2 separate regions of the Homo sapiens genome follow, and region 1 is linked to region 2. Evidence: fine-mapped expression QTL. A gene starts in region 2. The other region holds a variant in brackets. All regions are shown on one strand. Distances are from middle to middle. Region 1 overlaps TTC9-DT (TTC9 divergent transcript). Region 2 holds the start of MED6 (mediator complex subunit 6).

Region 1 (2,921 bases), 38 kb after region 2:
GCAATTCGTATACACATTAAAGTTTGAGAAGCACTGAGATTCTTTTTTATATTTTTTGTATTTTTTTATTTCAATAGCTTTTGGGGTACAAGTGGTTTTTTGTTACACGAATTGTATAGTGGTGAATTCTGAGATTTTAGTGCACCCATCACCCAAGTAGTATACATTGTGCCTAATGTATAGTTTTGTTTTTGTTTTTTTTTATCCCTAGGCCCTCCCCACTCTCCCCATTCTGAGTCTCTAAAGTACCACTCTGTATGCCTTTGCGTACTCATAGCTTAGCTCTCACTTATATATGAGAACATACGGTTTTTGGTTTTCCACTTTTATGTTACTTCACTTAGAATAATGGCCTCTGGCTCCATCCAAGTTGCTGCAAAAGACGTTATTTCGTTCCTTTTGATGGCTTAGCAGTATTCCATGGTATATACATACCACATTTTATTTATCTACTCATTAGTCAATGGGAACACAGGTTGCTTCCACATCTTTGCAATTGTGAACTGTGCTGCTATAAACATGCATGGAGAAGCACTGAGTTTCTGACTCTGAAGTTCATGCTCAGATTTTCTGTCATTTGGGTCTTTTCTCACTTCCTAAAATAGTGCTCTGCATATGGCCAACGGTTAATGGAAGAACGTTTAAGAAATTCTTGTTGGCATTTATTTAATTCCATTTGAAGGAAGAAGACCATTTTTGGGAAGCCAAAACACGTTTACCAATGAGTGGCTTAAACAGAGACAGAAGTATACTAACAACAAGCAAACAGAACGGTTCTAGACCTACACAGACAACTCTGTGGAGCGGGACAGATGGGCATAGTAATTCTACTCTCACTCCATGCTACCGCTCTTAATATTCCCTCCCTTCCTCGTTCATGCTCGCCTTTATCGGAGCTAGTACTAAGCTCTTGTGTTGAGTTCTGCTTCATACACAGGTTAGTAACGCATGGGTTCCATGTTTCTCAGAGCCGTGTCCTCAAACCCAAAATCTAAGAGTGAGATACTGCACCATTAAGCCAGCACACAGTGGGAAAATAAAAAGCAATTTGGCATGTCAATATTTCTTAGCTTTAAATGGTTGTGACCACTGTGACCCAATTCACGTCTTATTTCTGACAGGAGCCAAATTCCAGGCCTGGGTCTTTATCCAATATTTGCCTCCTGTAGCCTGTCCTATCTAAGTTATTTTAAGGACTGGTAACAACAAAAATTCGGAGTGCCCAACCTCTAATTTCTTCTCTTTGCTCTACCTGATGCAATACCTTAAAGTAAAAAGAGCCGGCAATTGGCAAATATTTATGAATTAACTGGAGTTCTGTCACAACATTCTTATGGGATCCAACAGTGACAGGATTTAAGAGCAATAATTAAAGTTACCATCTGTC[C/G]AGCACTTATGCTTCACAACAACCCTATGAAGTAAGTAGTAGTCCCACTTAATGAATGAGGAAATTAAGTTTTCAGAAGTTGAATAACTTGCCCAGGAAATAGTCAAGATAGAATTCCAGATAACACTTGTCTGAGTCTAGAATCTTTTAACCACTGAACTTATACGATGTCTCACTTGTAAGATACCACTGCAAACGCACTGTGTGAGCAGAGAATCATCTCCCCTCTCCAGGGATAATGTGAGGATCAAATGAGATGAAAAATGTCAAAGCATTTAGGAAAGTAAAGAAATACAAGACATAATTTAGCACGCTAAAATTGTGTCCAACTAAAAGCCCTAGGTTCTCTATAAATGACAACGGTATATGTGAAAAATGTTCACCTTTATAATTAGAGCTATCTCATTTAATTCTATATACATTTTTAATTTATCAAATTAGAAAATATTTCTTAAGAGCTCACCCTTGACGTTGGCAAGGAGGTGGTGAAACTAGCATATTGCTGGTGGCAGCACAAGTTAGTACAATCTTTCTGAGAAGCAAGTTGACAATGTGTTTCTAGACTTTATTAAAACTTGAAATAATGTTTTGTAAGAAAAAATAAATTAGGAAAAAAATTTAAGTATAAAGATAGTTAAGAGCATAGATTCTGGAGCCAAATTTCTTGGGTTTAAGTCCCAGCTCCACTACTCATTAGCAGTGTAATCTCAGGCAAGTCTCTGTGACTTGGTGTCTAAAATGAGGATAACAATAGCACTGATTTCACTAAGTTATTATGAAGATTCAGTGGATTATTATATGTTAAGTGCTTAACCCAATGCCTGGCACAATGTAAATACTATATGTAAGTGATATCTATTATTTTTATCTCAGTGTTATTTATAATAGCAAAATCTTTCTGACTATAGAAGAATGCTTAAGTACACTATGGTACACTTACAGTGGAATTTTTTTTTTTTTTTTTTTTTTTGAGATAGAGTCTCCCGCTGCGGCCCATGCTAGAGTGCAATGGCACGCTCTTGGCTCACTGCAACCTCTGCCTCCCGGGTTCAAGCGTTTCTCCTGCTCAGCCTCCCAAGTAGCTGGGATTACAGGCAGCCACCACCATGCCCAGCTGGTTTTTGTATTTTTAGTACAGATGGGGTTTCACCATGTTAGCCAGGCTGGTCTTGAACTTCTAGTCTCAGGTAATCCACCCACCTCCGCCTCCCAAAGTGCTGAGATTACAGGCGTGAGCCACTGCACCCGGCCACTTACAATGGAATATTGTACAGAATATTAAAAATTAGGCTTTAAAAGAATATTTAATTACATATAATGTAAAGTAAAAAGCACAGGAAGCAAGCCTGGGGAACATTGCAAGACCCTGTCTCTACAAAAAAAATAATTAACCAGGGGTAGTGGTGTGCACCTATAGTTGCAACTTCTCAGGAGGCTAAAGTAAGAGGTGAGAGGATCCCTTGAGCCCAGGAGTTTGAGGCTGCAGTGAGCAATTATCATGCCACTGCACTGCAGCCTGGGTGACAGAGAAAGA
Region 2 (2,899 bases):
AACACCTTTCTGACTTCATCTCCTTCCCACATCCTCTCTCACTACCCTCCAGCCACACTGACCTCCTTGCTGTTCCTTTAACACACCAAACACACTCTTATTTTAGAGTCTTTGCCATGATCCTAACAATCTGAATTATAAGTAAAACATTTTATAAACTAAATATTTCTCTTTTTTATTCTGTAGCAAGGCAACATGTTGACATAGCCCAAGCATTCTAACAGCATTCTAACCATCAGCAAGTGATGAAATAAATAATGAAAGACACGTATGTAAAATCATGATCCAGAAGTGCTGCAGATCGCCAGATAAGTATAAATGAGAATATTTGTAATAAATGTGTTAGACCCCAATCCAGTTAATATTAAAAAAAGGCATCTCAAACATCTCCCTTTAAAAATCAAGTACTATATACACAAAAACAACTCTACATGCTCCCCAAGATCAAGCAGCAGTTAAGGGGTGACATCTCCATACATTTATTCACTGACTGATTCAATATTTGAGTACTTCTGCAGTTCAGCTGTGAAAAAAATACGACCCCTGCCCATAATAATTGCTGGACGTTCGATGTAAAGTATTATCGACTCAAAAAAAAAGAAAATATCTGGGATTCATGCTCAGGGACCCGTGTGGCGCGGTCTAAAGAATTAGGCAGCCACCATGCCAAGTCCCAAGAGATGAATCAAATCAAGTTGGCTTATTACCCCATTCCCTTCTCTGCCTAAACGCCATTCCTTCACTCCAATAGAATAGCCCTAATGTTGTTGCAGAGATACGTGTGTAGAACAAAACTCCAGCTCTGAAAGCTCAAAACCCAGAGCTTCTTCCAACCCCTTCTCTCCGACGCTTCCAAGAGACGCTCCAAGAACTCAGAAAAAAAAAAAAACTCGTCAACGTTTCGCTAGATCACAGCCTTGGGTTGTCCACAAAAACCACTCAAAAAAGCTTGAGACTTCACACAAAGGAACCTAAACCTTGAAACCGCGAGCTATAACATCCCAAACTGGTCCACAGACAATCAAGAGACAAAATATAGCAATACAGTATACCTCGGATATCCACCGCCGCCATAATTCCGAGAGCGTTTACAGGTTCTCTTTCCGGCGCAAAGTAAACGTAAGCCTAGGCCGCCGGAAGCAGCGGGTTGAAGAGAGTGCGCATGGGTGAGGAGGGACGTAGAGCGGAAGAGGGGGCGGGGCGGGCAGGAGAGAGGCAGGGGGTGGAGGTGCGGGTGGGAGGGGAGGAGACGCGAGGGGGCGGAAAGCGGGAGAGGCGCGGGAGGCGGGAAACGTGGGGTGGGGTGGGGTGGGGTGGGGTAGGGGAATGGGAGGGGACGGGACGCAGAAAGATTGGTGCAGGGGAGCAGGGAAAGACTAGAAGAGGGATGGGCCAAAGAAGGAGAACGGGAGGGCGGATTACTGGGAAAAAAATTAGAAGACTTAGAGGACAGAAAGACCGAGTGGAGTCCCGCCCCACGCCCACCACTGATGGAAGAATTCTGCCTTGATCGTCTGTGATCGTCAAGAAAACAAATTCTGATGCTGTAGAGTTGTGCTTGGGAGTGTCTCTTAATTTTAAAAGCTCCCCGGGTGTATCCACTGAGCTATCAGATTTAGGAACGATGGTCATTTATATTTTTCTCCCTGCCTCAGGTATTGGGATGGGACAGGACTTAAGAATTTGGGAGTCATTGGCTTTTATGTGACTAAATCCATTAAAAATCTAAACCAATTAAAGAAGCCTCTGAGAAAAATTTCACAACACAGGAAATGCTTCTGAAGTGAAATATTAATAAGATTAAGAGAAAGGGAATACCCCTGGGTCCCAGAGTAATGAGCAAATGTCTGCATTCCAAGTAGTCTGGAGTAGGTAGCAAGGCTCCAAAGAGGGAATGATTCTGTGTACGGGGAAGCTACAGAAAGCCTCAGATTCTCAAGCTTCAGTGTGGCTCTGTAAAAGCAAAACGATACAGAAATATGCAAACAACACACAGATACTAGGAAGAGGATGCCAAAATCTGAAGGAGGGATGAGGGCGGGTGCCTACATCTTCTCCAAAACTTAGGTACTGTGAAGACTCCCCAAGAATTTAACCACAACCCAGGAGCAAGAGGGGAAGACCAGAAATTTAATTGGGATTTTCAACCTCATAGACAAGGAATTAAAAATTTGTTAACTCCGTAGAATAAAAGTACGTTGCCTGTACATTTCAGTTTGGGAATTTTCTGCCTGAGATGGTATGTATAAAATAGGTGTCCCAACAGAAGTATGTGCATGCACAGAGTAAAGTTTTGAGAGAGAATTTTTCAGGAGGGCCTGGTTGGGAGCCTAGTGGGAGGACATTGCAAAAAGGAAGAGTATCGTGTCCAATAAAAAGTGTGATCCATAAAGCTTTTTGTTTTGTTTTTCTAGTTTTTTGTTTCCTTGTGTTTTGATTAGGCTAGAAGGAGATTAGGAAGAATAGTGACAGAATGCAGATCTGTAGATAATAAAACATATGGTATGCATGGTAAATAAGACCTGGAAGCTCAACCTTTATTTTGTAGGCAATGGGAGAAATGTGATCAAGCTTCCATTTTAGAAAGATAACTTGAGGAAGACAGGGCAAGGTGGCTCACGCCTGTAATCCCAGCACTTTGGGAGGCCAAGATGGGAGGATTGCTTGAGCCCAGGAGCTGGAGACCAGCCTGGTCAAGATAGCGAGATCCCATCTCTATTTCTTTTATATTAATTGTTTCAGTTAATAAAGAAATATAAATTAAAAAGTGTGGTAACAAAAACAAGAGAAGACAAGATAGGGAGGAAGCCACTTTGGGTAGGACAGTCAGGACAGGCCTCTCTGAGGAAGTGATACCTGAGATGAGACCTGGAAGATGAAAGCAAATCACTCATGTGAA

The links. PIP is the estimated chance that this variant, and not a neighbour inherited with it, causes the effect.
Region 1: its variant is fine-mapped to the expression of MED6 in whole blood (TOPMed, PIP above 0.99).

Annotation. Positions count from the first base shown.
Region 1 is chr14:70,637,124-70,640,044 of GRCh38, forward strand. All of the region lies in intron 1 of TTC9-DT (TTC9 divergent transcript), which reads right to left. Among named protein-coding and RNA genes, the nearest start is that of TTC9-DT, 2.7 kb to the right of the region's middle. The variant C/G (reference allele first, on the strand shown) is at 1,388.
Region 2 is chr14:70,599,564-70,602,462 of GRCh38, forward strand. MED6 (mediator complex subunit 6) reads right to left here and starts at 1,092. Exons shown (of 8, transcript NM_005466.4): 1 at 1,053-1,092. The coding sequence starts at 1,074. RefSeq lists an enhancer at 594-1,793.